Homo sapiens: one gene and its partners. The protein of the gene in region 7 purifies or fractionates together with the protein of the main gene of each other region. This does not show direct contact. Each region holds a gene or a part of one and is shown on either strand. Other genes may lie near its edges. The genes, in order: HSD17B14, PPA1, MRPL13, TKT, QDPR, ATIC and GLO1.

Region 1 (3,487 bases), on a different chromosome or scaffold from region 7:
AGGGCCTTGAAGGGCATGCTGAATCATCTGGTCTTTATGTCAAGAGCAATAGGGAGCTGTGGCAGGTATTTGAGCAAGGGAGTGATGTGATCCTGTTAGTATTATTAACAGATCATAGGCTCTGGCTCCTGTAGGTATGAGGGACAAATCTGAGGGTTAAGCGTGAGAGTGGGAGAACCAGTATTAGGAGTTGATTGCATTTGAGCTGGGCATGGTGGCTCACGCCTGTAATCCCAGCACTTTGGGAGGCCGAGGTGGGCAGGTTGCCTGAGGTCAGGAGTTCGAAACCAGTCTGGCCAACATGGAGAAACCCCGTTGCTACTAAAAATACAAAAATTAGCCAGGCGTGGTGGTAGGCGCCCGTAATCCCAGCTACTCGGGAGGCTGAGGCAGAAGAATTGCTTGAACCTGGGAGGTGGAGGTTGCAGTGAGCCGAGATCGTGCCACTGCACTCAAGCCTGGGTGACAGAGCAATACTCTGTCTCTGAAACAAACAAACAAAAAAAGGAGTTGATTGCATTTGTCCAAGGGAGAAGTGGGGGCCTTCAAGGCCTCGTGATCTGGCCCCTGTTCTTCTCTGACCTCACCTCCGGCCACACTGGCCTCATTGCTCCCAAACACAACAGGCCTGCTCCTGTCTCAGAACCTTGGCACTTAAGAACTGGGGTCTCAGTATGTTGCCCAGGCTGGCCTTGAACTTCTGGACTGAAGCGATCCTCCCACCTCAGTCTCCCAAAGCACTGACATTACAGGTACCTGCCACTGCACCTGGCCCCCAGCGGGTCCTTGATATAGAGCAGGTGCTTAGCAACCTTGAGGGGTGTGGGGAGAAGGACACTCAGGGAGTGTGGGACAAATATTTACTGAGCTCCAGCTGTGTGCCTCGTGCTGGGGTGAGGGTGGCAAGATCCGTGTCTCAGCCCTGGTGAGACTCATGTTTGCAGGGTCAGGTGGGGGAGGAGATTAAACAGCAGGGCAGGTGCACAGACTGAGAGAGAAATGGAGCAAGGCAGGTGGGGTGGGCACTGGGAGGGAGGGAGGGTGTCACGGCTGGTGGGAGTGAGAGGAGGCGAGGATGAGAGGTTCCCTGAGGAGGAGGGCAGAGGCTGGTCAATGCCCACATCATTCACGTTCATATTAGAGCATGGTTTCTCTTTTTCTTTTTTCTTTTTTCTTTTTTTTTGAGACAGTCTTTATCTGCTGCCCAGGCTGGAGTGCAGTGGTGCGATTGTGGCTTACTGCAACCTCTGCCTCCCGGGATCAAGAGATTCTCCTGCCTCAGCCTCCCGAGTAGCTGGGATTACAGGCACGCACCACCACACCCGGCTAATTTTTGTATTTTTAGTAGAGATGGGGTTTTGCCATGTTGACCAGTCTGGTCTTGAACTCCTGACCTCAGGTGACTGCCCGCCTCAGCCTCCCAAAGTTCTAGGATTACAGGTGTGAGCCACTGTGCCTGGCCTAAAGTTCTTAATACTTAGAATTGTGAGAAATTGTTGTTTGTTTATGGGTTTGGGTCTCAGCCTGTCCAGCAGCAAATGCTGGTGCTGTCAGGTGTCACGTGATGCCCTGCGGGCGTCAATCATCCCTCCATTCCTTAGTCTCCTCGCTTGTGAAATGGGACTCTCAGCTGTACCTCCTTCTTGTAGGTACAGGAGAATGTTAGAGGGATGAAATGAGCTAATCCATGTAAATTGCTGAGGACAGGGCTGGACACATACCAGGTCCTCCATTCATTCATTAATTCACCCATTCATTCATTCAAAGGATATTTATGAAGCATGTGCTATGTGCCAGGCACCTTTAGTGCTGGGGAAGAAACAAAATAAGAAATCTTGACCATCCCTCATAGGTTTCTGCATGCTGGTGGGAGAGACAGAACATGAACAAACAAGTAAAATATATATGGCCTGTCAGAAGGGAGTGTGTGACACAGAGAAAAGACATCTGAAAGAGGGAAGGGGACCCAGGGGTGTGGGAACTGCAGTTTTATTTTATTATTTTATTTTTTGGGGCCAGGCGTGGTGGCTGACGCCTGTAATCCCAGCACTTTGGGAGGCCGAAGCAGGCAGATTACTTGACCTCAGGAGTTCAAGACCAGCCTGGCTAACATGGTGAAACCCCATCTCTACTAAAAAATACAAAAATTAGCCAGGCATGGTGACACATGCCTGTAGTCCCAGCTACTCAGGAGACTGAGGCAGGAGAAGGGCTTGAACCTGGGGGGAGGAGGTTGCAGTGAGCCAAGATGACATCACTGCACTCCAGCCTGGGCAACAGAGTGAGACTCTGTCTCAAAAAATAAAACAAAAAATATTTTTTTGTTGTTAAAAAAAATAAAGACAGGCCAGGCACAGTGGCTCAAGCCTGGAATCCCAGCACTTTGGGAGGCCGAGCCAGGCAGATCATGTGAGATCAGGAGTTCGAGACCAGCCTGGCTAATATAGTGAAACCCTGTCTCCACTAAAAAAAAAAAAAAAAAAAAAAAATTATCCTGGTGTGGGGGCACATGCCTGTAGTCCCAGCTACTCGGGAAGCCGAGGCAGGAGAATTGCTTGAACCTGGGAAGTGGAGGTTGCAATGAGCTGAGATTGCACCACTGCATTCCAGCCTAGACAACAGAGTGATACCCTATCTGAAAGAAAGAGAGAGAGAGAGAGAAAGAAAAGAAAGAAAGAAAGAAAGAAAGAAAGAAAGAAAGAAAGAAAGAAAAAGGGTCTTGCTAAGCTGCCCATGCTGGCCTCAAACACCTGGGTTCAAGCAATCCTCCCTCCTCGGCTTCCCAAAGTGCAAGGATTACAGGTGTGAGCTAGTGATCCTGGCTTGCAGCTTTAAACAGTATAGCCAGGGAAGACCTCACTGAGGAGGTGACCTCGGATCAGGGTTTGAGGGAGCTGAGGGAGTGTTTACCCAGGAAAGTCCCCGTTTAGCATTGACACTGTGGACTGAAAATACCATGTCCCCAAAAACCCTTCAGTCCTGGGCAAACTGGGATGGCTGGCCACCCTAAGAGTGGGTCATGTGGCTCTCTTAGGAAAAGGCACTCCAGGCAGAGGGAACAGCAAGTTCAAAGGCCCTGAGGTTTGAACACGCAGGGTGTGTCGAAGATACAGCACGGAAAAGGGTGGAGGTCGTTTGGGAGGGGAGCAGAAATGGCTTGAAAGAGTTGGTGGGGGGAACCGGGCAGGGAGCTCATTTAGATTCCCACTCGGAGAGCCTGCTAGGGGTGCTGCCTTGTACCAATTAGTCTTAAGTGGCAGGGACAGGCCTTGCCTGGCCAGCTCAGCTTTCTAAGGCAAGCGAGATCAAAGATAGAATTTGAGTTTATCCAAGGTCATGTGTAGTCAACGAACACACACGCACACACACAGAGAGAGTATTTAGGGACTTCCCAGGTGGCCAGGGAGTTGAATTGCAGGAGAAACGGTGGCAGGAAACAGTGCATTTCTTTTTTTTTTTTTTTTTTTTTCTGAAACGGAGTCTTGCT
Region 2 (3,500 bases), on a different chromosome or scaffold from region 7:
TAGAACCCTACATTGTCAGAACTAGAATTTAACATGAAAGTTTAAGATATGGAATAGAAAAATATCTGATTTCTAAAACTAAAAAATCAGGTCATGATATTTGAGCACTTTAAGATTTAGAGAAAGCTTTTATCTACCCAGTGTTTCATACTGTTTATACCATGTTTTGGAAAATTTCTGGTATCTCAGAAGTTTTATGTTAGAAGATACTCTGAGCTATAGGTGCTTTTATATTTGATCCTAAAATTGACCCAGAGCAAAGGACATCCCTACAATTTAAAAATATCCAGTGAGCCCTTGCCTTTACCTTCTCTACCCACTGGATTCGGAAATAATCAAAGCAGGGTACGCGAGTCACAAGATTTTCCAGAACTGGCTGGACTGATTACCTAATGGCATATGCCAAACTGAATATCCACATTAAAAGGTCCTGATATGGGTTGGACACAGTGGCTCACGCCTGCAACCCCAGCACTTCTGGAGGCTGAGGTGGGCAGATCGCTTGAAACCAGGAGTTCGAGACCAGCCTGGGCAACATAGGGAAACCCTGTCTCTACAAAAAAATAGAAAAATTAGCTGGGCGTGGTGGTGTATGCCTGTGGTTCCAGCTATTCAGGAGGCTGGAGCAGGAGGATCACTTGTGCCTGAGAGGTTGAAGCTGCAGTAAGCCAAGATCATGCCACTGCACACCAGCCTGAGTGACAAAGTGAAACCCTATCTCAAAAAAAAAAAAAAAAAAAAAAAAAGTCTGATATGGATATGAGCCCTTGGGCATTTTTCCTTAGTCTGATATCAATATGAGCCCTTGGACATTTTTCCTTAGTGGAGCTGACTGAGCTGTGTTAAAGGTACATGCTCACTAGATCATGACATTCCCTCATTATAATCCCTCGGATGACTGACCATATTAGGAATAAAGTCCAAGGCCAAGCCCGTGAGAATGTATTCATGTAAACTTAATCACAATAGATTTTTTATACAAAAGAAAGAAAATCACACTCTAATGAATCAAGTTAATCAGATTTTTTTTTTAAGGCTATAATCCAAAATGATGTCTACCACACCTTTATTTGTGTTTTAAACAAGTAACTTCCTTTAAAACAAAACAAAAGAATTCCTTCCAGCCTCTCAGGCAGGAAGGCTTCTGCCCAAGGTCCACTGAGGTCTAGACTACTGGTAAAATCCAGAGTCATAAGAACTTGTGCTTTTGAGCTGGGACAGGGCGTGCCAAGGGCAGAGTCTTCCTTTGAGTAATCCACTTTATAGACACAACCAGTCCCTTATAAGGCTTCAGTGTCTGAGAGTAATCTAAGTGAACACACTTAACAGGACACCAAAATGTAGCCTGTTTCCTATTTTGGAGTAACCTGAAGCAGCAATAAGAGTAGGTACCAAAACATCTATGATCATTCTGGTCCTTGGTAGGAATACAGTCACTTAGAACACTGGGAAAATAGCTCTATGTCAAGAAAATGTTTTCCTACCTGTAGCATACCTGTATGCCAGGGTATTATCAATAAACTTAGGGTCATCATTTTATACCTCTTCATTGCTCAAAATGGTCTGAGATGCTACAGTATGATATACATGCTATTATACAACAAGCAGATAATTCAAGCCAACCCAATGGGGCCAATTGAAGAGGGAAGGATTCTGCAGTTTATATCAACTCCCAGGAAATCAGATGTAACAAATTCGAGTTTCTGAATAAATACCACTCTGACACTCCCACAGGAAAAACACATGCCAATTAGAAGTCCCTCCTGTATTTGTGGCACATAATTGGCCTAGGGCTGTTTGCTCCATTGCCTCTAATTGGAGTCTTACCCAGGAAGGCTCCTGGGAAGCAATGTAAAAATTGGAATTTCAGGCAGTACAGAACTGCAGCAAACTTCCTGGTAGAAGTGCAATGAATGTGTCTATTTCTATCTAATAGTCAGGCCCAGAAAAACAGTAAGACAGCACACACAAGAACAAAATTACTATTATTCTAGACGTGCACTGCAAAGTGATGTTCGTGTTGTATATTGACATCTAGCTAAAGAAAGTCAATAACCTATGTAACTCTTACAACTCAAAAACCTTTGTACTCAATGTGAATCAAACTTCCTTACTGAAGGAAAAAAACTGAAAGGTAGAAAAAGAATAAGATATTTGTCCTTGTGTTAAGTTGCTAAATACAGTACAAACTGCTTCCATTGGAAAGGAGAGTAAGAAAAGATGTGTTTTTTAAAATGACTGTTTAAAGTTGTTCTTATAACACATGTTCTTTGTAAAAAGATTAGACAATATAAAAAGACAAAAATGAAAATAAAACCAAGAGTCACTGGCAGTCCCACGAATCATAACTATTTTGATATATATTTTATTGTTATTTATTTTCCTAAGACAGGTTCTTGCTATGTTGCCCAGTCTGGTCTCAAACTCCTGGACTCAAGTGATCCTCCCAGCACAGCCTCCCAAGTGGGATTACAATTGCCCCACACTCAGCTATTCTGGTGTATACAGTTGTAGACTTCTTTTTCCCCTAGAAAAGTAAAGACTTTTACAATTTGTGGTAAGCCTACCAATCTGTATTAAAGTTAGGTTTCTTCTCACTGGTGTATACAGGAACAGCTATGTCCTTTTAGAAGTCTGTGTGCCTACCTGTATTAACTCTATCTTAACTGTGCAAATCTTAACGGTACTAGCCCGTTACTAAATTTTCCTATACTCATTGAATAATCTAGTTTACTTTTACTGTTTCATAAAGATCCCACAGCCAAAATTCTGTGCTGGCTACCTGGTTTATTTTAGAACCAGTAATGAAGTATTACGACTTTAGTTCCAAATACACATACAAAAAGGACCAATGTAATTTTTTCTTTTTTTTTTCCAAGACAGATTAAATACTTTTGCTTTTACTCCTCCTCTCCTTCCCCAAATTATATTTGCTCCTTTAACTAAATAATCTAGTTTTAAGACTAACTTCTTATTTAGTCAATGGACCTTTTTTTTTGAGACAGGGTCTCACTCTGTCACCCAGCTGGAGTACAGTAGTGCCATCTCGGCTCACTGCAACCTCTGCCTCCCAGGCACAAGCGATCCTCTCACCTCAGCCTTCCAAGTAGCTGAGACTACAGACACATGCCACCATGCCCGGCTAATTTTTGTATTTTTTGTAGAGACAGGGTTTCACCATGTTGCCCAGGCTGTTCTTGAACTTCTGGACTCAAGCCCTCCACCCGCCTCAGCCTCCCAAAGTGCTGGGATTACAGGCGTGAGCCACCACGCCCAGCCTAATCAACAGACCTTTAGCTCACAGCACAACGAGGCATTTTAAGCACTTGTTGAGAGACATATAAGAAAATTCATATGTAGAACTAGCTGATCTGAGTAAAGAGACTGTGTCCAAAAACAAGGATGCCTTACCTTATCTGCATAAATTGGAATATCATGAAATGGAGATATATATTGTCCTTTCTCATTTTCTGCAAAATAAATTAGAAAAAGTTATTACT
Region 3 (3,500 bases), on a different chromosome or scaffold from region 7:
TTTTAAGAAAATTAAGTCTAAATTTTTTTTTAATGTAGTATATTCCAGAAGATATTCTTAAGAATTTAGTAGAGGAGCTTCCTCAACCACGAAAAATACCTAAACGTCTAGATGAGTACACACAAGAAGAAATAGACGCCTTCCCAAGATTGTGGACTCCGTAAGTGTTTCCCTTCTTCTTGTTTTTTTTTCTTTTGATATCCTCTGTTTCCTCAACCATATGATTAAATAAGATCCTTGAGGGCGGGAAGAGTGAACTCATTTTTTTGCTCCCCTGGGAACTCAGCAGCTACTACCTACAAATAAACTCTAGATGTAGGTATTAGAACCAAAAATTTTTAAGCATTAAGACCTTGCTAGATAAGTGCGAGGATGTTCATAGGTTCCTATAATTATCAAGTATTTTGTTTGGGCTGATGGTAGTCTTTAGGAATGATATATGAATTGTTATTAATCTAAAACGTAATGATTCTCAGTTTTCCACATTGTTTCATAAGTTAAAAATATTATCTAATGAAAAGTCATTAATTTTGGATACTTGTTGTCTTGGTCCAAAAAGAAAAACAAAATAAAAAAATACTTTTTGCTCTCCTCTGTACAGTTTCCTCTACCTAAGGCCGTAAAGCTGCTAAGATGTAACATTCTTTCTCCCATCTAGTTGTTTCTAGGCTTTTTTGCCAGGGCTATCCAGATGATGAAGCATTTAAGTGTAACTTCCTCAGGCAGTCCTTCCTGTAATCTTTGAACCGGGTTAGGCTCTCATTATGGGTTCTCATCGTACACTTCCATTTACTGATTTACTCTAATTATATATTTGTGTGATTATCTGTTTACTATCTGTCTTTCTTGCTAGACTTCATGAGGGAGCTACATGTTTGTCTTATTTAGCACTGAGCATGGTGCTGGACAAATTAAATAGACACTCAGCCAGTATTTATTGAATAAATTAATTAAGACTTTTATCAGCTTTTATAAGTGACTTTAGGAAAGAATCTCTAGAAAATATGAAGCAAAGACCACTTTTCATTTTTTTCACAGCATTTATCACTATCTACTGTACTCTCATTTATATGTGTGTCTGTTATTTGTCTCTCTACACTCATGGCAATAATAAAAATAGCAAGCACTAATAAAGCATTTATTGTGTGCTTTACATGTATTAATCTACTAATCCTCAGAGCAATCTAGTGAGTCAGTACAATTTTTATTTTTATTTTTATTTTTTAAATGAGAAAATATGGGCACAGAGAGATAAAGCAACTTGACTAATATCACATAGTTATAAATGGTATATTAAGGATTCAAGCCTGAGTGACTAGCTGCTGGGTCATGCTCCTAACTCTGCTGGAATGCCCCTTCTTGCATTGGCATGTCAGCTTCAAGGGGGCAGGGACATTGTCTGGTTCAACATTTACATCTTAGAAATACTTAGAAACCCTTAGAAATAGTACTTGGTGCATAATGGGCACTCAGTAAGTGTTTTGGAAAGAATGAAGACATGAGCTCTTTCCCTAAAAATTAATTGTGAAATTTTCATGAATAGCTTAAGTTTTAGAAAAATCCAAACCAAGGTTCAAATCTTGCCTCTATAGTAGCTGACTCTATAACCTTAAGTAAGTCATCTTTCATTTTGAGCCTTAGTTTCTTCATCTCAACTCAGTTTCTTCAGTTGTAAATTAGAGCCACTCCATACTTCTGAGAATTGCTGGAAGGAGTAAGTGAGCAACTTAGCACACTTGAAGTGTTGACTAAGTTTTTAATAGGAGAATTTTTTTGCTATTGCAAATTCTATACCATTTTAACATGCTTGCTAGTGTAGAGTTTTATTGTAAATGTACTTAAGTTGATGTAGTTTGAAAATATTCAGCTTTGATAAGTTATATACTAAAAACATTTTAAGTTGTCCTTGAAGTTTTGACAGGTTACCTTCCTATAACAGTTCTGTAAATATGTATCTGATTTTCTTACAGAAACACCATCATAAATGAATTTATATTCCTGACCAAGAGGGGTGTGGTACTCTTTTTTTTAAAATTAGAAATAATAAAGTTGCTGTTAAATCATGTATGTGCAAATACATATTATACACTTGAAGTCATATTTCATGAATATTCTAAAGTGTATTCTAAATCAGTTAAACTGGCACCACACTAATATAATAATTCACAAATTATATTTAGTGTTATTATAGTCAGAGTACTGACCAAAATTTTCATTCTGCTGAATGATTTCTGCTTTCTTTTGAAACAAATTAGAAAGTGCCTGAGTGCCTTCATTTTATTAATAGAATTAGAAAGGGCTTTTCTATAGCTATTTTTAAGGAGATTTTTAGAGAAACTTAGAGCCACTAGATGCATTTTTTAGTTACTACTCTGGGAATAGATTTTCCTGCCCTCTCTCTTCATTCCAGATTTCCCTGAGGCAGGAATATGCATTAGACACTAGGTTTTCCTTTATGCTTTATTAAGGTTGTGATTTTTTCCTCATAAATAGTCACACGCATATGTTAACTTGTATTTTCAAAATAGTAAAATAGGTATACGTTTACTGAAACGTATGGATAGTATAGGTGTACTAGTCATTTAATATAAATCATTCTGTATTTCTTTCTCCCTGCACATTTGAGCTGACATCAAGTCCAGTTAGTCTTTATTACGTGAAAAGTGTGTGACCAGGAAAAATATAGTCATTTTTGGATTAACCAAAAGCTTATCTAAGAAATAGATGATCATTTACTTCAAGGCTCTTGAGTAGAACTTTCTACAATGATGAAAACAACTCTCAGCCAGGCATGGTGGCTCATGCCTATAATCCTAGCACTTTGGGAGGCCAAGGCAGGAGTACCTCTTGAGTTCAGGAGTTCAAGACCGGCCTGGGCAAGATGGCAAGACCCTGTCTCTACAAAAACAAAAAACAAAAAAATTAGCCAGGTGTGTTAGCACACACCTGTAGTCCCAGCTACTTGGTAGTCTGAGGCAGGAGGATCTCTTGAGCCCAGGAGTTTGCAGCTGCAGTGAGCCATGATCATGCCACTGCACTCCAGCCTGAACAACAGAGCAAGACTTGTCGAGAGAAGGGGAGGGAGAGGGAGTGGGAGAGGGAGGAGAGGGAGAGGGAAGCCTGGCGCGGTGGATCACCTAAGGTTGGTAGTTCAAGACCAGCCTGGCCAACATGGTGAAACCCCATCTCTAATAAAAATACAAAAAAAACTAGCCGGATATGGTGGTGGGCACCTGTAATCCCAGCTACTCTGGAGGCTGAGGCAGGAGAATTGCTTGAACCCGGGAGGCGGAGGTTGCCGAGATCGCACCATTGCACTCCAGCCTGCGTGACAAGAGCAAAACTCCATCTCAAAAAAAAAAGAGAGAGAAAGGAAGGAAGGAGGGAGGGATGGAGGGAGGGAGGTAACTCTCTATTCGAGCTTCAAATACATTAGCTACTGTTGACGTGTGGCTCTTGAGCCCTTGCACTGTGGCTAATGTGACTAAGGAACTGAATTT
Region 4 (3,500 bases), on a different chromosome or scaffold from region 7:
GTGCTGGGATTACAGGTGTGAGCCACTGTGCCCGGCCTGTTTGTGTTTCCTGTAGAATGTGTGGAACATGTGAGTACATTTCACTGTATGTTCCTACTGGTGAAGTTGCTGGGAGTTAAGGGATGTGCATCTTCGGCTACTGATCTGGTTTATTTTTAATGCTTGAAAGATTACTTAGGTTCTCTATTTCTTCTTGAGTCAGTTTTGGTAAATTATTTTCATTATTGTTATTATTTTTTAGACAGAGTCTCACTCTGTTGCCCAGGCTGGAGTGCAGTAGCATGATCTCGGCTCATTGCAACCCACGCCTCCGGGGTTCAAGCTATTCTCCTGCCTCAGCCTCCCAAGTAGCTGGGATTATAGGCATGTGCCACCACGCCCGGCTAATTTTTGTATTTTTAGTAGAGACGGGGTTTCACCATGTTGGCCAGGCTGGTCTTTGAGCCGCTGACCTCAGGTGATCTGCCTGCCTTGGCCTCCCAAAGTGCTGGAATTACGGGTGTGAGCTACCGCGCCCAACCTGACATCCATTATCTCTTGAAGGAGCCCATCTGGAGGGTGAGGGAGCCTCTCTGGCCTTTTCTTGCATAGAAACCTGTGAGCAGGTGGAGTGAGCACTAAAGCGATGACAGAGATTCTCCTGGCCAGGGGACATCTGGAAGAATATATATTGTCCTGGAGGGGAGTGGAGAGGGGGCTTTTTTTTTTTTTTTTTTGAGATGGAGTGTTACTCTTGTTGCCAAGGCTGGAGTGCAATGGTGCAATCTTGGCTCACTGCAACCTCTGGCTCCCAGGTTCAAGTGATTCTCCTGCCTCAGCTTCCCGAGTAGCTGGGATTACAGGCGTCCACCACCACACCTGGCTAATTTTTTGGTATTTTTAGTAGAGATGGGGTTTTACCATATTGGCCAGGCTGGTCTTAAACTCCTGACCTCAGGTGATCCGCCTGCCTTGACCTCCCAAAGTGCTGGGATTACAGGTGTGAGCCACTGCCCCCAGCCTGGAGGGGGCTTTAAGAGACTTTCTTTGGGCCTAGCTCTAAGCTTGCCACACCACCGTCACAGGTTGAACTAATTGGGGTTGTAAGTGGACTGTTTTGGTCAAGGCAGGGTGTGTTAGTTTTTTTTTTTTTTTTTTGAACAGTCAAGTGTGCTTGTTAGCCCTGTTTATCACAGAGTCAGGGTATACAGTAAGTACCCTGTAGCCCCTCCACCGTGCTCCTCACCCCATCTCTCGCCAGTGTTCACCCAGAGTTGTCACACACAGCACCACGGGATGGGGCGTCCACCTGCAGTTGTGCAGGCAGTCTGGAATGGCAGGAAAAACTCTGGCCCTGAGGAGGCCACAGGCTTAAATGTATGCCTTTGGCCCCAAAGGCCCGCTAGGAAGTTGAGCTTGAAAGTAACTGTCTCCTGTGTGCTCAGTGCTTTACAGTGTGCAGAGCCCGGTCTCAATCCTTGGTGTATTTCTCCCCTCTTGCCTGCCTGTGGCCAGCAGGAGTGGGTGGTGTCACCATCCCTGCCTGTAGATAAGAGCTGCAGGTGCTGAGAGGGTTGGCAGTGGTGGCGGCTGCTAGAGACCTGGGTACTGTGCATGCTGCGTTATCTCACTGTGTCTCCCAGACACTCTCCCAAGTGAAGAAGCTGAGCCCCGGGTTGACGAAGCACTTGTTGAAGTCACGAAGCCCAAGTGGCACAGCTCACCTCCCCAACCCAGGATGCTCTGCCGAGGGAGAGCCCCAAAAGCTCTGGGGAAGAGTGCGGGGACACCTGGCTCCTAAGCGTTCTTCTTTTGTGCGTGTTTACTTGGTAGAAGTGAAGAGAGTGGCCGCAGCAGGCTGGATGCAGCCTTTGGAAGGAATGAAAGGCTGCAGGCCTAGCAAGGAAGGCTTAAAATCAGCTGCACGTTCTACTTCTCACCCTTGGTCACCTCGCAGCTGACCTTCCTCTCTCCACGTTTACTCTATCTGGGCCTGGGTGTGCTTCTGCCACACACAGAAAGAGCCTGTGCCACACCATTTCTCCCTGGAACCCCTTCTGGTGGCCAATGGGACTGTCACCCCGGGGTGTCGAGGTGGATGGGGCAGGTGGAGCCCTGCACTTACCGTCCTTGTTCTTCCCCGGAACAGTTTGGCCCAGTGTCCACCCACATCCTTCTCCCACCAAGGATCCCTCCTAATGGGACCATGGCTTTAGAAACAGGACCCCTCAGGGCCGGGGCTGCCCTTGGAGGTGGGAAGGACGAGAGGTCAGCCTGAGGTGACCTCCAGTTGAAGCTGGCCCTGGGAGCGTGGGATTAGGGTGGCCTCCAGTTGAAGCTGGCACTGGGAGCGTGGGATTAGGGTCCCTGCCAGGCAGAAAAGGGTTTCTCGTTTACCATGTCCTCCCCTCCCTCTTTCAGGTGTAGTGTCTTTTCCCATGACCGGGAGTTCATAGAAATAGTTAAGTATAAGATGATCGTGTGCGAGAATGTTGGTACTAAACCAGCATGGACAGTTTTCTGGATTTCTCTACTACTAACTTGTCTGCACTGAGCGTGACTCACCCCTAACCTGGTGGGAGCGCTGATTGGAGGGGCGGGAGGCTGGCGGCGTGAGCTCCAGATGGTGCATGTGCCCTTGGGCTTGGCATGCGGCGTGTCTTCGTGTGAAGGACCTCTGGGAGCAGCGAGAGGGCTGAGCTGAGCTGAGCTGAGCTGCATGTGGAGGGGCCCTCCCGGGAGGCCTGTGCCCTGAGGCTGAACTTTTAACAAAACCCTGGGACCAGAGGGCTTCAGGGCTGATCAGGACCTGCAGCGCTTCCTGCTGGGAAGCAGGAAGCAATAGAAAGTTTACGCTTTCTATTGCTCAGGAGCCGCTCAGTGATTAAAACAAGTCTAAAAAGCCAAGGGGACTCCGTGGCCCCACCACTCCCAGGCTGGAAGGCAGGTTCTTGCTTTGTCAGCCCTTCCTCAGCCCTTGTCCATAGGCAGAAGGGGTTTTTATTAATACATGATTGTAGCCTTGTAGGAGATGAGATTATGTGTCTTGCTTTGAAAATTCTACACAAAAGCCTGTTTCCTAGTTGCTACAGCAGCCCTCAAACTGCCCATTTCTAAAGCTTTCAAGTAGCCCAGTGATGCAATTGGAAAGCCCAAGGCCCAGTTTTTCAGGCTACCACACCCCATGCGTGGAGGCTGCTGGGAGGTCTGTGGTAACTCCATGAGCCTCAGTCCCTTCCTCCCTGCCCCATGGGCTCAGAGGCCCAGCACCCCTGGGTGCTGAGAGGGCAGGGTGCCCTTCACAAGTGGGCAGTGTCCGGGCAGTCCTGTCAGGATGTGGGGTCAGTCGTAGGAATGCCGGCACCCCTTGGCTGCTGAGTCCTTAGACTCCTGGGGGCCACTAGGTGGGAACTGGGTTCTACCTGACAGCAGCTGCCCCCAGCCGCAGTGCTAGCCTTGGGCTGAGTCTTCTGTGCTAGATCTCTCCTGGGCCCCTCCTTCCTTCTTACTCAAGTCCAACC
Region 5 (3,500 bases), on a different chromosome or scaffold from region 7:
TGGCCAATAAATTTTACAAAATAAACCTGGAGTTTACTGATTTGCTGGACTGGCTTTAATTCAAAGATTGTTTTATTTTATGAATGGTATCAGATTTGTAATAAGAACCTATATGTCTACGTCAGGTTTTCTCTGTGATAAAAATCCAAGGGCCTATTACTGTACAGCTATAAAGAGAGCTTTTACTGAGCTACATATTTTATGTCTGAAAGTTTAATGTTAGCTTTAAAGACTCTTCAAAAGAAAGCTAAAATAACAACCATTTTACACTTGTTTTAACTCCCCGGCCTTGCCAGAGACATAAGGAAGAACAAATGGTAACATATGTCACACCACCAACTGGGCAACTCGAAGGGCATGTGGTACCTGGTGATCAAAAAAGGATGTCCTCCTGATATAGGAGGGGTTGGTAGGTGATAAACAAGAAATTGCATTTCCCCACTAAAAAAGACTAGGAAAAAAACCTGATGGATCCACATTTATCATTTCTTGCTCCCAAAACATACAAAAAGGTTATCAAGCTGTTTTGCTAACCTGATCACCTCACAAAGCACCACTCTCACATTGACATGTGGGTCACAGAATGTCAACGTCTTTTTAAATGGCTTTGGCTAATAAATGTAGAAGGGATGACAGAATTAGAAAACTACCATTTTCCAACCCCTGAATAAGTGCTTCAGGCAGAGATTATCAACGAAGGACTAAAACCACTGGGTGAAAAGTATAATACTTGGGAAACAGGACATTCACACACAATACCACAATACCACACATCCCACAGATGACTGACTTACTGCAAACAGAAAAAAAGTACCTTTATAATGGAAGTCTGGCAGTTGCCATCTCAACCAAGCATCAAATTTGGCATCCCTAAGGGTAGGGCAAGCTGCCATGCTGAGCTTCCCAGGTGATGTCATATAAGGTACACACCATCACTCAGGAAGAATTCGCACCACAAGAATGTTTATGCTAAATCTAACTGAGTCTCTAGACCCAAATTCCAGTTCACGGGGAATACCAAGGATAGAGGAACAAGTCAAACAACCCCTTAAAGAAAAGTTCAGACAAGTTCAGAATGTGAGACATGCTATATGAAAACTCCCAAGGACTTGACAAAAAGTCTTATCACAGGGGATTTTTTTAAAAATTCTAGATTTTCTAGATTAAGAGACTAAAAACAACATAATGCAGTACATAAACCTTGAGTGGAATATGTTTAGGGAAAAAGAACTATAATAGACATGGAATAAACTGGGGAAATTTGAATATGGGCTCAATATCATTAATCTTAGATAATCACTGTTAACTTTCTTAGGTACAATGGTACCATAATAATGTAGGACGGGCTTATTCTTTGGAGAAACACGCGGAAATATAGTGAGGTGTAAACTTATTTTCAAACAGTTAACAAAAAACAATGCACAAAGTACACAGGCACAAGAAAACAAGCTCAACTCAAGTACAGCAAATGTTAACAGTTACTGAATCTAGATGGAGCATATAAGGGTGTTCATTGAACTGTTCTTTCAACTTTTCTGGTATGCTTAGAAATGTTCATAATGAAAAGTTGAAAAATGGGCCAGGCGCACTGGCTCACGCCCGTAACCCCAGCACTTTGGGAGGCTGAAGGGGGTGGATCACCTGAGGTCAGGAGTTCAAGACCAGCCTGGGCAACATGGTGAAACCCCGTCTCTACTAAAAATACAAAAAATTAGCTGGGCTTGGTGGTGGGCACCTGTAATATCAGCTACTCGGGAGGCTGAGGCAGGAGAATCGCTTGAACCTGGGAGGCAGAGGTTGCAGTGAGCCGAGATTACACCATTGCACTCCAGCCTGGTGACAGAGCAAGACTCTGTCTTAAGAAAAAGGGTAGGGGAGTAGAGGGGAGGGGAGGGAAGGGAAGGGAAAAGAAAAGATGAAAAAAGGAATCAGCTTTAGTAAAATCTCAAGTTTGACTTCTTCTGACTTTCTAAATGATCTCTGCACTTCCTACACATCCTCCAATGCCTGAATAGCACATGGCCTGGGGCACAGGCCATGCTGATTTCATTCTGCCTCTACTTTAAACTCAAACTCAATGCCCCCCGTCCCCTCACGTCCTCCAGGGGAAGCTTCTTCTTTATCCGTAAAATGGATTAAGAGCATTAATCACTCTCTCCCCGAGCAACTGTAAAGATTCCGGGATATACACAAAAAAACAGCTGGCCTGTCACCTAGTGCAAACCCAATCCTTGTCAGCTGGAAAAAGAGCAGAGCAGAACAAATGAGTGACTCAGGAAAGGACTCACACTTGGATTTGGCATTGCCCCCGGCCCATCCTCCAGCAACGCAAAGAATTGCATCCACCTTCTCTTCACCCAAGAGCTTTCCAACCTCAGCAGTCACCTTCAACACAAGAACAAAAAAATGTATAAACTGTAAGGTAAGCCAACACAGGCTAGCATCTTTACGGATACTCAGTTTCTTTTTCTCTTCTTTTTAAGCCAGTTTACAGTACCTGGCAATTAATGCTTTGAGAATTAGACGGAAGACTAAGCTCTGATGAGCATTTTAGACATTGAAGCCCAAGTACACTTCAGTGTGATTTTTAAAAAACAATCTAGAGTCTCTGTGTATACATTCTGAAAGGTAGAGACATGAGCATCCCTTGAAATACAACAATTAATAAATAAAAGTAGGGAAAGGTTAAAAAAAAAAGAAAAAAGCACCTAGAGCTTCACTGCCTGCACATAGTTAACATCCTGGTGTATTTCTTTCCAGACTCTCTTCACAAATCACAGAATTATAATCCAAAAAGAAGATCAACCCTGTTTTCCCCACCCCAATCCAAAAATCCCTTTAACTGCAACTCTGAAAAAAATGCCAACGAAAAATTGTAAGAAAAATCATGAGCCAAGAAAAAATACAGTCAATAGCAATATGTTGGTAATATTAAGTACATGGGGGTTCACTTTAATGATCTCTCTGCTTCTGTTTGTTTGAGATTTTAAAGCATTGAAAATATATGTATGCCCTCTTGTTATAATTTATGAAAAGAACAGTCTGTCAGGACAGGCAATTCTGGCCATCCACCACGACTCTTCCGTATTTCTCTGGAATGGCTGAGATGACAAATCCCAATTGCTTCATTAAGATCAATCTTCTTAAGATTTCTTTTTTTTTTTTTTTTTTTTTTGAGATGGAGTTTCGCTTGTCTCCCAGGCTGGAGTGCGATGGCGCCATCTCGGCTCACTGCAACCTCCACCTCCCCGGTTCAAGCGAATCTCCTGCCTCAGCTTCCTGAGTAGCCGGGATTACAGGCGCCTGCCACCACACCTAGCTAATTTTTGTATTTTTAGTAGAGATGGGGTTTCGCCATGTTGGCCAGGCTTGTCTCGAACTCCTGACCTCAGGTGATTCGCCTGCCTCGGCCTCTCAGAGTGCTGGGACAACAGGACTGAGCTACCACGCCTGGCCCAATCTTCTTAAGATTTAAATCAGGCTGGGCACAGTGGCTCATG
Region 6 (3,500 bases), on a different chromosome or scaffold from region 7:
AGGTATAAATAGTAGTTATAAACAAACCTCTTACTCCACCCCTTTTAATGACTTAAAAATTATTTATATTTCTCTTATTTTGGCCTGATATGTTCTTCCACAAAACTAATAAATAGGTTTTGGAGAATGTGCACAAAAGATCCTTTTGAGAAGAAAGTGTCTTTGGAAGAGGTGTTCACTTTAATGTCTGTGTTCCTCAGGTTATCGGCATTGGAGCAGGACAGCAGTCTCGTATACACTGCACTCGCCTTGCAGGAGATAAGGCAAACTATTGGTGGCTTAGACACCATCCACAAGTGCTTTCGATGAAGTTTAAAACAGGAGTGAAGAGAGCAGAAATCTCCAATGCCATCGATCAATATGTGACTGGAACCATTGGCGAGGTGAAAGACTTGGCATTGGGTTCTCGGCTGTGTTAATATTCAGTTCAACCCTTTATGTGTAACAGATTTTAACTTCATCACCACACAGAGAAAAAGATACTTTCATTGAAATTCTATGTTGTCTAAAATTGATCATTGAAACTTCTTACACATTTCTCATGTTCTTCTGTCTCATGTAACTTTCTTCATTGTTTTTGACCCCTTTCTGAAACCACAGTCCTCTGTCTTTTTAAATTGCAGCCTTGGTGTAGGTTTGTATATTTGTACTTCCCCTGTTGATTATAAGCTTTTGATGACAAGGACTGCTTTTCACCTACGTCGAGGTGCCTGCCACCACGTCATGCATGGTGCTTGCTGTCCGATGGGTCTGTATTCAACATTAAATACAAATTGCCTGACGGCAGGTAACCCTGGGGTCTTCTCCCACCACATTTTCTACATGTGCCATTAATAACTTGATACATTTTGTTACATTTCATGTTCTTCTGTTTGAAGAAGGTATGTGGGAACATTACAATCGCAAACGTTAGGTAGGTAGCCCGCCAGAAGAAAAGATCTAGCCCAGTTTCTGGACATATTGCGTGCCTAACAAAATGCTGGATGGAAAACAGAAGGCTGCTAATCAAATACTAGATGGTCTTCTGAAGAGCCAATTGACTACCCTCAGTTTTTTATTCAGGAGCAGGAATCAACATAAGTGTCATTGAAGAGTGAGGCTGCAGAATGTAACTGAAGTCCTTAAGATATCTTTTTTTTTTCAACTTTGATACTTGGATTTTTCTGTTTGATATTACCAGTCAACCCCTGCTACTAGTCCTGAAAGAGTCCTGGAAGTGAACAAGAATAAAAGTATGTCAAAGCTAAAACATGACCCAAGATAGAAGCACCTTGTAAAATATGATTAACTGTCTGTGCCACTATGACACAATACTGCAGGCTGGGTAACTTATAAACCATAGACATTTATTTTTCATAGTTCTGGAGGCTGTGAAGTCCCAGATCAAGGTACTGGTGGGCTGAGAGTCTGGGGAGGCCTACCCTCTGCTTCCCAGATGGCACAGCCCTCTCTGGAAAGGACAAACACTGTGTCCTTACTTCACAGAAGGGGCATACTTCCCCTGAAGCCCTTTTATAAGTCTGTAATCCATTCATGAGGGCCCCACCCTCATTGCCCAATAACTTTCTAAAGGCCTTATACTTCTTAATACTGTTGCATTGGGGATTAAGTTTCAACATGAATTTTGGAGTGGATACACACACTCAAACCATAGCAAATATTATGAATTGTGTTTTGTCTACAACTGCCTTTACATTTAGAATAATTTTTGTATAAATGTAGTTAAAGAACTACTCATCTCTTTCCTAGATTGGATATAGAGGGTTTTTTTGAAAACCCTTGGAACACAATTTTTATTTGCTTTCTTTGCTACAGTAGTACCAAAGCAGTAGATTTAAATTAGACGGTAGTCTAATAGACATAAAGTAGTAGATACGAAGTAGATTTAAATTAGAGATTTTAAAACAGTGTATTTTTATGTAAGTAGCTTAGCCAAAAATAAAAAAAATTACATATGTACTTGGAATAAACTGATTTGGAAAGTAAAATGGTATTATCTTTATTTGGTAAACTTAGAATCACTTTTTTTCCTTAATGAAAATATTTCTAAAAGCATCAAAGAGATTCTAGATATGTGAACTTCCATGTAAATAATGGTCATTATTTACAATTAAGAAATCCTGGCCGGGCGCGGTGGCTCATGCCTATAATCCCAGCACTTTGGGAGGCCGAGGTGAGTGGATCATGAGGTCAAGAGATTGAGACCCTCCTGGCCAACATGGTGAAACTCTGTCTCCAAAAATACAAAAATTAGCTGGGTGTGGTGGTGTGCACTTGTGGTCCCAGGTACTTGGGAGGCTGAGGCAGGAGAATTGCTTGAACCTGGGAGGTGGAGGTTGCGGTGAGCCGAGATCGCACCACTGCACTCCAGCCTGGTGATAGTGCAAAACTCCGTCTAAAAAAAAAAAAATAATAATAATAATAAAAACAAGTCCTAAGAAAAATGCCCAGGTGCTTTCTGGCATGGTGATTTGCACCACATAGAACTAAAGACGATGTCAGACCAAGCTTCTTCCTTTCTCTCTCCCCGCATAGGATGAAGATTTGATAAAGTGGAAGGCACTGTTTGAGGAAGTCCCTGAGTTACTCACTGAGGCAGAGAAGAAGGAATGGGTTGAGAAACTGACTGAAGTTTCTATCAGCTCTGATGCCTTCTTCCCTTTCCGAGATAACGTAGACAGAGCTAAAAGGGTAAGTATGGAATTGGGTGCATTTGCTTAGAGTTGAGCATTATGTAGAAACTGTTTCAGAAATCCTGCTTTTGATTTTTAAAAGGTGTGGCAAAGTGATACAGATCAGTAATATTCAGAGAACCATTTGACTTCTCCATTGGGTGGATGGAGAACCCAAATCCTGTTGTTATTTTGCCTTTTTGACTGAGTGTATCTTTGTTAGCATATGCTTTTTAGAGGGGGATTTTGAGTTTTGCAGGTTTTTACATAAAATCGCGTTTTGAAAATCAATATACTTCCCCCAGAGTGGTGTGGCGTACATTGCGGCTCCCTCCGGTTCTGCTGCTGACAAAGTTGTGATTGAGGCCTGCGACGAACTGGGAATCATCCTCGCTCATACGAACCTTCGGCTCTTCCACCACTGATTTTACCACACACTGTTTTTTGGCTTGCTTATGTGTAGGTGAACAGTCACGCCTGAAACTTTGAGGATAACTTTTTAAAAAAATAAAACAGTATCTCTTAATCACTGGATCCATAGTTTTTGGTAGTTGTGTTTTATGTTAAAGATGCAGGCTCTTTGAACTGACACATGACACATAACACATAAATGAGGAATTCCAGAGCACCCCTGCCTACCGGAGCTCAGCCCATCCCACAGCACTGCCCGTGTGAAACATAAACATTAGCAGGAACCAAACGAGCTGAGCAGCCAGAGGACATGGCACAAGTCACTGTGTACAGGCCACACTTAAGGACTGGGAGTTATACCCATCTTAAAGGTGGAGTATTGATGTAAATTACCTAGAATTCTTCTGCATGGGAGTT
Region 7 (3,500 bases):
TCTCCCCAGAGATAACTGCTGTCCAGTTTCTTGTGATTTTTTTCTAGAAAAAGGTATTATGAATATATTTATGACATATTTAAAGGACAAAATGAAAACAGATTTATTGAACACTTTTGCCAGGCACTTCAAATGTTATTTTGTTCAGTCTTCACACCAGTCTTAGGAGGTAGCTTTTATCCCCATTTCACAGACGGAGAAACCAAAGCTTAATGAGATGAAGTTACTAGCTCCAAATCCCACAGTTGGCATATGGCAGGGCTGGAACCTGTATCCATTGTCTGATGGGCTCTAATGTAGACTTCCTGTGCAGAGCCCCCAAATAGGGTACAAGTTGACAGTAAGCTGGAAGATTTGAACAGCTGAGAAAAGCAAGTTGCAACAGTTTCATTTCCTTCAGTCCCAACTGATTGGTCCATGAGGGTTGTGTAGTCTGCTTTAGTAGGTGCAGAGATTGTTTTTCATGATTGGAGTATTTGAGGTGTTTGATACTTTATTATAAACATGTTAGAGTAAATCTTATTTGTGATAAGTCAATGCAAGGATCTAAGTGGGCCAAGGTCTATTATATAGCAGTGATAATGAAATAAAAGATTGGAAGCAGAACTCTAGAAACTTTCCATTTGCTATATGGCAATAACAGCCATTTGCTCTTATTGATTATGAACAAAGTCATCTTTGAATAATCTAAAGAAAATCATATATGCATTCTCATGCCACCTTACTCCTTGCCAAATAATCCTATACCATTTAAAGTCATTTAAGGTTCAGGACTTCAGTTATCTTTCTTAAAACCTCAGGATTCATAATTCATTCACTCTCTCTCCCATCAGTCTCTTCTACTGTCTCTTTCCCCTCAGAGAAGCGTAAGTCTTCTTTGTTCCAGAATATTTCTTGCCCTCTGCTCCTTCGCCTACCTCCCCATTGTCACTGCCATGCTTGCTACTGTTTTACCTGCTCACCTGCCATTCTCTCTCCCCAGTACAGTGTAATCCAGCTGATGCTTCCCCACTCTGCTGACATTGCTCTCATGGGACCTTTCCATATCTCATGACCTTTTCTTAGTCTTAATACTGTTTGACCTTTCTACAGTATCTGATACTGTTAGCCACCTTACTGTTGACATTCACGTCTTCTGTGATACTAGTCTGTCCTTCCTCCTTCTTTCTTACCACCTATCCTTAATTTCCTTTCCTAGATGTTTTGGCATAGTAAGAACTCAATAAATGTGTTTATTTAACTGAATGACATATTTATATATGTGTTTGTATGTGTGTATATATATGAAATAGCAACAAGGTTCTTTATATTTTTCAGTACAAATAAACACAGTTCTCTTTTGGAGATAGCCGTTTCTATTTATTAACAAGTACCATAATTTCAGCTAAATGTTACTATATTTACAGAATTGATGAATTACAGAAGTTTTCATTTTTGTATTTCAAATATTTACAGATGCATTTTTCATGATATTTTTTCACTGATTTTTCCTCCTGCTTATTCCATTAAAATAGGCTTACTACATATAGCTCTTCTTTTTAGTAAAACTTGAATATTAAGTTATGTTGATTATAGTATGAATTAGCCTTTCCTGTTGTTAATGATTCAGGCTTGTTGTTTTTTCATTGCAGGCTAATCCAAAAATGTGATTTTCCCATTATGAAGTTTTCACTCTACTTCTTGGCTTATGAGGATAAAAATGACATCCCTAAAGAAAAAGATGAAAAAATAGCCTGGGCGCTCTCCAGAAAAGCTACACTTGAGCTGACACAGTGAGTATGAGTTTCTATATTTATATATATTATAGATTTTTTAAGGTAGTTTTTAAAAATCTTTTTTGTTTTGTTTACTGACCAGTATAATTCAAACCAGATCTGCCTATGACTTCACATTTTTAATAATATATTGAAGTGTTTTTCATGCATCTTTTGATCTTTGTATTGTTCTTGGGCAAATGAGATGTGTTTTTTTTAGAGACAGGCTCTCTGAAGCCTCTAACTTCTAGGTAGTCTTCCTGCCTCAGCCTCCTGAGCACCTTGGACTACACATGTGTGCCACCACACCCAGCTAGTTTTTGTTTGTTTGTTTTTGGTAGAGGCATAGAGGCAAGGTCTCACTATGTTGCCCAGGCTGGTCTCAAACTCCTGGCCTCAAGTGATCCGCCCGCCTCGGCCTCCCAGACTGCTGGGATTATAAGCATGAGCCACCACGCCTGGCCCATTTGTCTTTTATTTTTATTTATTTATTTATTTATTTTTTGAGACAGAGTCTTGCTCTGTTGCCCAGGCTGGAGTGCAGTGGCGCGATCTCGGCTCACTGCAAGCTCTGCCTCCCGGATTCACTCCATTCTCCTGCCTCAGCCTCCCAAGTAGCTGGGACTACAGGCGCCCGCCACTACGCCCAGCTAATTTTTTGTATTTTTTGTAGAGACGGGGTTTCACCATGTTAGCCAGGATGGTCTCGATCTCCTGACCTCGTGATCTGTCTGCCTCGGCCGCCCAAAGTGCTGGGATTACAGGCGTGACCCACCACGCCCGGCCTCCATTTGTCTTTTAGATAAGAGAATATAAGACCCTGAAATTGTAAGATATTTGCCTGTTTGTCTCTAACTAATTTTTAGGTACTATAATTAGTCTTTCAGCATCCAAAATTTTGTTCTTTTATTATTTTGCTACATTTTGGATCCAGAAATGTGATATCATGTGTTCCTTTAAAAATTCTTCAAACCATTTTGTAATAATTAACATTCAAATTTGGTATTTTTATAACTTGAGCACTTAAAAATGTAGGCAATTTCTTTACATTGTTTATCTGCATACTTTAAAAGAGATTGATTTCAGAGTGTGTGATTTCGTGTGTCCCTTGATTCAAAATAAAGCTTTGGAATCAGGCAGGCTTAGATATGAGTCTGTGACTCTAAACAAGTAAGTGGCAGTTTCATCAATAGAATGGAGATGTTCACACCTAGCCCATGGAGCTGTTTTAAGGGTTTAAATGAAATATAAAGTACTTAGCACAATAAATGAGCATTATTATTATTCTTATTATTGTTCTTGTCCAGTACCTGTATTTACTGTCTCTTTAGTCTCGTTAAAATCATACTTTGGCCATTTGTCCTTTCTATAGTTGAAAACTTAATATTTTTGTAGCAGGGGTTAGGCCAATTATGTAAAGTAGCATATAAACGTGGTAAGATTTCAAAGATGTTACTTGCTTTTCAGAATATCTATTCCCTAGGACATTGTAGCTATGTTTTCCTTCCTTTTGTAGCAATTGGGGCACTGAAGATGATGAGACCCAGAGTTACCACAATGGCAATTCAGACCCTCGAGGATTCGGTAAGTTTGCCTGTTTTTATGTGATATATGTAGATTTGTGTGATTTTGTATTATGTATATAATTATGATTTTAATAAACCTAAAACATTAATGTCCTAATTAAGTATGATCAATTTATTAGAGATATGATTATTTTTATTTTCCACAAATAATCTTATTTAG

The links.
Region 1: the proteins of GLO1 (region 7) and HSD17B14 fractionate together in Homo sapiens (co-fractionation; one large-scale study listed by BioGRID). This does not show direct contact.
Region 2: the proteins of GLO1 (region 7) and PPA1 fractionate together in Homo sapiens (co-fractionation; one large-scale study listed by BioGRID). This does not show direct contact.
Region 3: the proteins of GLO1 (region 7) and MRPL13 purify together in Homo sapiens (affinity purification with mass spectrometry; one large-scale study listed by BioGRID and IntAct). This does not show direct contact.
Region 4: the proteins of GLO1 (region 7) and TKT fractionate together in Homo sapiens (co-fractionation; one large-scale study listed by BioGRID). This does not show direct contact.
Region 5: the proteins of GLO1 (region 7) and QDPR fractionate together in Homo sapiens (co-fractionation; one large-scale study listed by BioGRID). This does not show direct contact.
Region 6: the proteins of GLO1 (region 7) and ATIC fractionate together in Homo sapiens (co-fractionation; one large-scale study listed by BioGRID). This does not show direct contact.

The regions. Positions count from the first base shown.
Region 1 is NC_000019.10:48,816,005-48,819,491, reverse strand, and holds part of HSD17B14 (L-fucose dehydrogenase), read left to right. Parts: intron 1-3,487. UniProt on the Homo sapiens protein: Catalyzes the NAD(+)-dependent oxidation of L-fucose, yielding L-fucono-1,5-lactone, which rapidly converts spontaneously to L-fucone-1,4-lactone. Can also act on D-arabinose and L-galactose, with lower catalytic efficiency. Does not use NADPH.
Region 2 is NC_000010.11:70,226,930-70,230,429, forward strand, and holds part of PPA1 (inorganic pyrophosphatase), read right to left. Parts: intron 3,471-3,500; coding exon 3,412-3,470; intron 1-3,411.
Region 3 is NC_000008.11:120,410,651-120,414,150, reverse strand, and holds part of MRPL13 (large ribosomal subunit protein uL13m), read left to right. Parts: intron 1-38; coding exon 39-160; intron 161-3,500.
Region 4 is NC_000003.12:53,242,523-53,246,022, reverse strand, and holds part of TKT (transketolase), read left to right. Parts: intron 1-3,500. UniProt on the Homo sapiens protein: Catalyzes the transfer of a two-carbon ketol group from a ketose donor to an aldose acceptor, via a covalent intermediate with the cofactor thiamine pyrophosphate.
Region 5 is NC_000004.12:17,502,091-17,505,590, forward strand, and holds part of QDPR (dihydropteridine reductase), read right to left. Parts: intron 2,386-3,500; coding exon 2,289-2,385; intron 1-2,288. UniProt on the Homo sapiens protein: Catalyzes the conversion of quinonoid dihydrobiopterin into tetrahydrobiopterin.
Region 6 is NC_000002.12:215,346,559-215,350,058, forward strand, and holds the end of ATIC (bifunctional purine biosynthesis protein ATIC), read left to right. Parts: intron 1-200; coding exon 201-383; intron 384-2,535; coding exon 2,536-2,691; intron 2,692-2,977; coding exon 2,978-3,097; 3' UTR 3,098-3,206; downstream 3,207-3,500. UniProt on the Homo sapiens protein: Bifunctional enzyme that catalyzes the last two steps of purine biosynthesis.
Region 7 is NC_000006.12:38,682,646-38,686,145, reverse strand, and holds part of GLO1 (lactoylglutathione lyase), read left to right. Parts: intron 1-1,631; coding exon 1,632-1,772; intron 1,773-3,270; coding exon 3,271-3,338; intron 3,339-3,500. UniProt on the Homo sapiens protein: Catalyzes the conversion of hemimercaptal, formed from methylglyoxal and glutathione, to S-lactoylglutathione. Involved in the regulation of TNF-induced transcriptional activity of NF-kappa-B. Required for normal osteoclastogenesis.